Linked DNA regions of Homo sapiens: all the other regions are linked to region 3. Evidence: fine-mapped expression QTL. A gene starts in region 3. Each other region holds a variant in brackets. All regions are shown on one strand. Distances are between the middles of the regions.

What was found.
Region 1: its variant is fine-mapped to the expression of TRIM16 in whole blood (TOPMed, PIP 0.98).
Region 2: its variant is fine-mapped to the expression of TRIM16 in whole blood (TOPMed, PIP 0.96).

What each region holds. Positions count from the first base shown.
Region 1 is chr17:15,650,256-15,653,012 of GRCh38, forward strand. It overlaps TRIM16 (tripartite motif containing 16), which reads right to left. Exons shown (of 12, transcript NM_001348119.1): 7 at 836-1,691. The coding sequence starts at 1,354. Among named protein-coding and RNA genes, the nearest start is that of FBXW10B, 32 kb to the left of the region's middle. RefSeq lists an enhancer at 654-1,603. The variant T/C (reference allele first, on the strand shown) is at 1,386.
Region 2 is chr17:15,644,682-15,647,438 of GRCh38, forward strand. The region is part of intron 7 of TRIM16 (tripartite motif containing 16); the gene reads right to left. Among named protein-coding and RNA genes, the nearest start is that of FBXW10B, 26 kb to the left of the region's middle. RefSeq lists enhancers at 1-482, 1,297-1,386. The variant A/G (reference allele first, on the strand shown) is at 1,573.
Region 3 is chr17:15,682,997-15,685,753 of GRCh38, forward strand. It overlaps TRIM16 (tripartite motif containing 16), which reads right to left and starts at 1,315. Exons shown (of 12, transcript NM_001348119.1): 1 at 1,200-1,315; 2 at 40-161.

The DNA.
Region 1 (2,757 bases), 33 kb before region 3:
GGGCAAACGTCAACTACACTTCCCGACTGAAAACTAAAAGTGTTCGCTGAAAGTCAAAGTAGAAGGAAAAAAGCATATGAGGTGCCAAACCAATTTCCAGGAACTTCTCCAGGATCTAGCTTTAGGCAAAGAAAAACGACTTGTTCTAGAAACAGTTTCCTTATCCGATGGAAATAAAATGACAGGCTATGAGCATGATGTTTCTTAGTCTCTCCTGATACCTCCATCTGGTGAGGAACTTTTATTATCCCTAAGCCACCTGTGACATTATACCTGGACCTAAGTTTCAAATTCTCTGCTATCTTAGCACTTTTCAAGCTCTTAGATTTCCTGTTATCTCCAGAGGGGCCCATTCTACTGGTCTCTTGTTTGAGAAAAAGAGAAACTGGGAGAAAGAGTTGTTCTTTTCTCTTGAATTTCTGCCAAGGTTTTATTTCATTAATTGACAATGGATGTGCCATGCAGATCCAGCCACAGGGACATATCACCGCCCTAAGCCCCCACAACTTCTGCACCCTCCACCCAAACACACATCACCAAAAGCTGTATAAGGCACAGCAGGAAACTAGCAAGAAGGAGGAGAGACAGACACAGACAGAGATCGCACAGAGACAGTGGGACAGAGATGGGGACGGAGCAACCTACTCCACACAGTTTCCAAAACCAAGTGCAATGTATATTTACACTGACCCAGCAGGCAGACGCTGAAGCTAGTCTTTTTCAGGTATGCTCAGAGCATAGTAGTGGCGTCAGTGGACCTAGCAGCTGCAGCCAGCTGGGCACACCATCCCCCACCGCCCTCTCCCAAATGGATGAATGGTCCCCAAGCACTCACCTCCTTGTCCCTGCGGGCTGCATCCAGGGAGACTATGGTGTGGCCACTGTGCTCCTGGCAACAGTCCTGGCAGATGCACTGCTGATCAGGGCAGCAGAAGGCAGACAGTGGGCTGTGGTGGGCAGGGCAGTATCGCCAGTTGTGGTCCTTCACTGGCTCGGTCAGCAGGTGGCTTTGCAGTTTGATGTTCACCTGATGCGGCTGCAAGTGCTCTTCACAGTAATTCACCATGCAGGTTAGACAGGACTTCACTGCCTTCACTCTTCTGGTGTCATCAAGGCAGAAGTCACACAGGACCTCTTTCCCCTCACCAGCAGGATCCCCCTGCTCTGCAGAGTCGCTGTCCTGTTCCTCCGTCTCCCTGCCAAGCTTCTCCGAGGAGCCCACGTCCTCTTCTTCCACTGGGCTGGCTGACCCAGAATCTGGGCTGGGTGACCCAGAGTCTGGGCTGAGAGGGGCTGGGGGCTGAGCAGTGGCCCTGGGCAGTGGCCCTGGAGCCATTAGATCCAACTCAGCCATCTGGGAGGCTCTGCTCCTAGGCTGTCTTTCT[T/C]CTGTCCCTTGGCCCAGGATCTGTGCAGCCCAAGTCAGACAAGAGAACCACGCCTAGATGATTGCAGCTGCTGCAAGATTTTAACTGTTTCCTCCCTCCCAGAGGAAGCTCGGCCACTCATTACTGTGTGCTGGCGCTGGATGGCAGCCAGATGCGATGACGACAAGGCAGCTAGAGTACTCAGGCTCAGGACAGCCGGCTCAGGCTCAGGCTGCCTCCCCAGGTCCAGCCCTGAAACTTCTATTCTTATGTGAATCATCTGAACCCCATAGGCTCTGCTGAAGACCACGTGTCTCTGTGCCTGCTCTGGAAAGGACAGAAGATTCCTGAGCTCTGTTATAAGCCTGTGTGGCTTTGTGTGGTCTGACAAGCGACATTTTTTTTTGTTTTCATTTTTAAAGAGAAGTAAAATGTAAGGACTTCAACACCAGGACAGCCATTCATCTACTCCCATCTCATAGAACTGGACATGAGGCAGCTAGGAATAGGATGCATGTTTCTTTTCTTTTCTTTTTTTTTTTTTTTGAGACAGAGTCTCACTCTGTCACCCAGGCTGGAGTGCAGTGGTGTGATCTCGGCTCACTGCAACCTCCGCCCTCCGAGTTCAAGTGATTCTCCTGCCTCAGCCTCCCGAGTAGCTGGGATTACAGGCACCTGCCACCGTGCCCGGCTAATTTCTTTTTTTTTTTTTTGTATTTTTAGTAGAGACGGGGTTTCACCATCTTGGCCAGGCTGGTCTTGAACCCCTGATCTCGTGATCCACCCGCCTCGGCCTCCCAAAGTGCTAGGATTACAGGTGAGCCACGGTGCCCACCTTTTTTTTTTTTTTTTTTTTTTTTTTGAGACACAGTCTCACTCTGTCGCCCAGGCTGGAGTGCAGTGTGGGATCTTGGCTCACTGCAACCTCCGCCTCCTGGGTTTGTGATTCTTCTGCCTCAGCCTCCTGAGTAGCTGGGATTACAGGCACCCACCACCACGCCTGGCTCATTTTTGTATTATTAGTAGAGACAGTGTTTCACCATGTTGGCCAGGCTGGTCTCGAACCCTTGACCTCAGGTGATCTGCCTGCCTGGGCTTCCCAATGTGCTGGGATTACAGGCATGAGCCACTGTGCCCAGCCAGGATGCATACTTCTGATGCTGACTTTTCCATATCATCTTCCTGAACATTCCAGTAATGTCCGTCACACTCGTGGAGATGAACATCACGTGGGTACTCAGTGGAGATCAGGAGGGTCAGGGAAGACTTGTCTCCTTCCACAGAATGCTCCCTTCAGGTTAACAGCCCTTTTGCCCACTTAACGAAACATTCCTAGACATGGTGTTATAGTTGAGACACTTGTTCCCACAAACCTCATGCTGAGATTTGATCC
Region 2 (2,757 bases), 38 kb before region 3:
CCCCCTCAGCCACCCAGTCATCTCACTGGCATTCAGACACTTACCACTTCAGAGAGTCTGGGGGTTCTAAGAGCTGTCGGGTGCCAGGAAATGGGGGCAGAGACCAAACCTAAGTTTTTGTTGTTGTTGTTGTTGTTCTTTGTTTGTTTTTTGAGATGGAGTCTCACACTGTCGTCCAGGCTGGAGTGCAATGGTGCAATCTTGGCTCACTACAACCTCCACCTCCCGGGTTCATGCGATTCTCCTGCCTCAGCCTCCTGAGTAGCTGGGATTACAGATACACACCGCCACACCCGGTTAATTTTTGTATTTTTAGTAGAGACAGGGTTTCACTATGTTGGCCAGACTGGTCTGGAACTCCTGACCTTGTGATCCGCCTGCCTTGGCCTCCCAAACTGTTGGGATTACAGGCATGAGCCACCGTGCCTGGCCTGTTTCTTATTTCACAACTTAATATCTCTAAACTTCCATTTCTTCACCTGTGAGATGGGGCTCAGTAAAGTGTTTGCTTCATAGGATTAGGAAAGAATGGACTAACGAGATAACGTATGTCAATAAGAACTTTGTATAGTACCAGGGACATTATTAATGAGCTCCATAAATGTCAGTGGGTGCCAGCATCGTCATCATCATCATTATTACTCCTGCTACCATGGCTGCTTTCCATTCATGTTCTGTATTCGAAGGCAGAGCCAGCCCTCCCAGCCCAGGCAAGTGCCTGCCCAAAAACCTCAGGTTTGCCTGCTTTGGCCCCAGCTTCAATCTTGCCTCCTGGGATGCACTAAACACCTTCTGCCAAGAGGTGTGCCAAGGCGCACTTAAGCCTTTGCAAACCTCAAAGACCCTGTCACTTTCCTACTTCCACAAGGGCAATATACAAAAAGAAAAAGAAAAAAAAAAAAGAATCGCTTTCACTGCTTAATAGCTTCTGTCTGCATTTAAAGCTGCGAGTCATTATGCCCTAATAGAACTCAGAGAGCATAAACTGTCTCTCCATTCTCCACTGAAGACTGGGGGAATTCCAGGCCCCCTGGGGAGGGAAGCAGCTGCAGGCAGAGGACTCGCCTCTCCAGGACACTGCAGAAGGCAGGAAATGTTTGCTCAGGCTCCAGGTCACTGAGAGTGGAGCTGAGGGGGCCCCAGTGACCTCTCACCCTTGATACCTGAGACGTGATGCCTGGGAGTGGGGAGTGGGGGTGGATCTGGCCTATTTGGGGGCAATCCTGGAATCTTGAACTATGAAAAAGGCTTACACAGTGACCCATTCCAGGGGAGAGAAAAGGAACATGAGCTGCTTGTTTAAAGGTGGTGGAAGACACATCAGAACACACCCTAGCAACAGGCTCCTACAACACGGCATCTAAACAGCAGGGACAGAAGAATGTGTTGAAGCAGTCGGCAGCAGCGGGGCCATAGGGAGGTACCCAGGGAGCATCGAGAGTGAGGGGCTTCTCTCTGCTATTTGCAGACTACCATAAAAGGAGAGAAAAGGACTCCTTAAGTACATAATCGGGGACTTTCCTGACTGAGTCACCCCAAGAAAAGGCACTCCCAGTTACCTCAAAAGGTGGA[A/G]CCACTTTGAAAGACTTGTTTCTCCAGTTATTCCTGTTCCTTGAAAATGATGGGGTGCCTCAGACACTGGCTTCAGGGTTTCCCAAGAGGTCAGCCACACACACATCTCAGGTCAGGGTGGGCCCTGCCCAGAAGCGGGACTGTGGTGCCCATGAGCACAGAAAGTTCTGGAAGGCAGGGCACACAGAGCTCTGCCTGCTTCAGCAAGACAATGACAGATGTGTCAAAGGCACACTATTTGGAGTCCGAAATATTTTGGGACCTGCCACTTGCTGGCCATATAGGCTTTGTCAAGTCATTCAAGCCATTTAGCTTCTCATCTGGTGCAAGACTACCTAAATATGCTAACAGAAGGGTTCCTTCTGCTACAGGGCAAAGGTGGCACACAAAGAGTGGCAGCCAGGTCATGTTAGAGATGAAAAATAGAAAGAACAGGGAGAGTGGGAAGAGAGAAGAAAATCCCAGACTGTGCCAGTTCCTTTGTATTCCAAGCACACAGGGTTAGCCTTTCTAGAGAAGGAAGAACTAGAGTCCACCTGGACGCTGACTGCATGCCTCGGTCAGCTGCTCAGAATTCACCATAGTACATATGGCCAGCTCAGTCACATAGGACACACACTGCCCCCTCTCAAAATACTTACAGCCTGGGAGAATAAGAAAAACAAGTTACGTAATACTGAGTCCTGGGCATTCCCCAAAATGGCTGAAATAAATTCTTTTTTTTTTTTTTTGAGATGGAGTCTTGCTCTGTCACCCAGGCTGGAGTGCAATGGCGCGATCTCGGTTCACTGCAACCTCCACCTCCCAGGTTCAAGCGATTCTCCTGCCTCAGCCTCCTGAGTAGTTGGGATTATAGGCGCCTGCTACTGTGCCAGGCTAATTTTTGTATTTTTTTTTTTTAGTAGAGACAAGGTTTCACCATGGGTCAGGCTGGTCTCAAACTCCTGACCTCAGGTGATCCACCCGCCTCGGCCTGCCAAAGTGCTGGGATTACAGGCGTGAGCCACCGCGCCCGGCCCAAGTAATTCCTTTCCCAAGTGGCCACATACACCTATCATCCACCTTTCGGCTGCCAGCAAACAGGCTGTGAGTGATGCCAGTTAACCGCTCCCCAGATGAGCGTGGATACTTTTGGCTCTAGATACTTGGCTCTTGCTCACCATGGAGACTGTGTCTGCAGCCAGC
Region 3 (2,757 bases):
TCTTGGCTAATGGCAGGACCCTTTATTTCTATTTCTTACCTCTGTTCTGGAGTTTGCAGGTCCAATCCTCCATAATCATAGCCTTTGCTTCACTATTTGGGTGTAGCAACCTTTCCGTTCTCCACGTATCTTCCTGGAAATTGCCAGCATTCTACCAGAAACTGTGGTAAGAGGTTCTGGATTGAAGTTTTCCCCTTTTTCATTGTATTTCTTTTTTCATTCTCTGAGACTCTACTCAGAACGCAGAGTCTGACGCAGTATCTTTTGAGCTAAAGCTAAACTCAAGAACTTCGGCAGCCATTTAATCTTCAGGAAGCCCTGAACACAGGCAAGTCTCAGTACCTTTATACCACTAGGGCCCTGCAGAGTCAGACACTGGGAACATAGACAGTTACAGACAACAGTAAGGATACTGTGCCTGATGAATACAAAAGTGCAGGGTGGTGGAAAGTGCCCTGCTGGGAGTGCCTGGATTCTAATTTCCACTATGTGCTAGTTGGCTGGGTGACCTACAACAAGCTACTTTTCATTCTTGGGTGTTTCCTTCTTACGTGCAAATGGGCAGATGGATGCCTACTATTAATAAAAGCAACAACTGATTGATCCCTTACTTGGTGTCTGGCCCTGTGTCAACTGTTGCATGTCAAAATTCCATTTAATCCTCACAACCACCACTTAATAGTAGGTACAACAAACCTCAAATTACAGGTAAAGAACACGAGACACAGAGAGTAACCTGCCTACGCTCACATCAGAGCAATACCACTCTCTGAAAATGTGGATAAACAGATCTCTGATATCCATCCCCTCCTACGTTCACACTTCAGTCTATGAAACGGTTCCACCACACTGCAGGCTGCAGAGACATAAGGGACGCGTTGGTGCCTAACCTGGCCCTGGTACAGGAGCCTTGGGCGCTACCTGCCTCACTTTGCAACCAAATGCTCCAGGGTATGCGGGCCCTCAGCCGGTTTCCAAGCAAACGACCCAGAGGTGTCTCGGATAAGAAACACACATACACCCCACTCCCACACACACAAAACCCAAAGACACGCTCCAGGGGCAGAGGGGGCGCGTCAAGGTGGCCGAACCCTAGCTCCAGCAGAAGGAATTACAGTCAGATCAGCGGGCCCGGGGAGAGACCCAAAAGGGAGCAGCCGGGACCCCAAGTCTGACAATCCACTGCTGAACACACACACCCTGTCCAGCGTCTGCTCCTCCCCGGTCCAGACACAGAGAGGGTGTCTGCTCTGGGGGACAGGGAGGACACAGACTCGCCACGCGCGGAGATCCTCCAGAGAAAGGGGCCGGAAACGGAAGTGCGCGCCGAGGCTCCTGGGAAATGTAGTCCGGAGCGGCCCGGGCGACAGAGCGAGATTCTCTCTCAAAACAAAAACAAAACAGAAAAACTAAACAATGTTAAAAGTGAAGTTATAGAGCGGAAATTTTTTTTTCTTTGAGACCGAGTCTCGCTCTGTCGTCAGACTGGAGTGCAGTGGCGCGATCTCGGCTCACTGCAACCTCCGCCTCCCGGGTTCAAGCGATTCTCCTCCTCAGACTCCCGAGTAGCTGGGATTACAGGCGCCCGCCACCATGCCCAACTAATTTTTTTAATAATTTTAGTAGAGACCAGGGTTTCACCATATTGGCTAGGCTGACCTCGAACTCCTGACCTCAGGTGATCCACTCACCTTGGCCTCCCAAAGTGCTGGGATTACAGGCGTCAGCCACCACGCCTGGCCCAAAAATTGTTTCTTATGCTTGATCTAGTCTGTTGTTAGAGTCTTGATTGTATTTTTCATTTAATTCATTGGATTCTTCAGTTCTAAGTTTTCTGTGTGGTTCTTTTTTATATCTCTGTTAAATTCCTCATTCAAATTATGAATTTTCTTGATTTCATTGAATTGTGTAACTGTATGCTCTTGAATTCCACTGTTTCCTTAAGATTATTATTTTAAATTCTTTTTCTGGAACTTTGTATATTTTCTTTTTTTTTTTGAGACAGAGTCTCGTTCTGTCGCCCAGGCTGGAGTGCAGTGGCGCAATCATCTCTAGGCTTACTGCAAGCTCTGCCTCCCGGGTTCACGCCATTCTCCTGCCTCAGCCTCCTGAGTAGCTGGGACTACAGGCGCCCACCACCACACCCAGCTAATTTTTTTTTTTTTTTTTTGTATTTTTAGTAGAGACAGCATTTCACCGTGTTAGCCAGGATGGTCTTGATCTCCTGACCTCATGATCTGCCCGCCTCAGCCTCCCAAAGTGCCAGGATTACAGGCGTGAGCCACCGCGCCCAGCCAGAACTTTGTATTTTTTCTTATGATTGGCATCTGTTACTGGAAATTATTGTGTTCTTCTGGAGGTGTTGTGCTCCTTGCTTTTTCATGTTTCATGTGTTTCTACATCTTTCTTTCTTTCTTTCTTTCTTTCTTTCTTTCTTTCTTTCTTTCTTTCTTTTTCTTTCTTTTCTTTCTTTTTTTTGACAGAGTCTTGCTCTGTCAGCTGGAGTGCAGTGGTGAGATCTTGGCTCATGGCAACCTCTGCCTCCCGCGTTCAAGGGATTCTCCTGCCACAGCCTCCGGAATAGCTGAGATTACAGGCATGTGCTGCCATGCCAGGCTAATTTTTGTATTTTTAGTAGAGACAGGGTTTCACCATTTTGGCCAGGCTGGTCTGGAACTCCTGAATGAACTCAAGCTATCTGCCCATCTCAGCCTCCCAAAGTGCTGGGATTACAGGCGTGAGCCACCGCACCCAGCT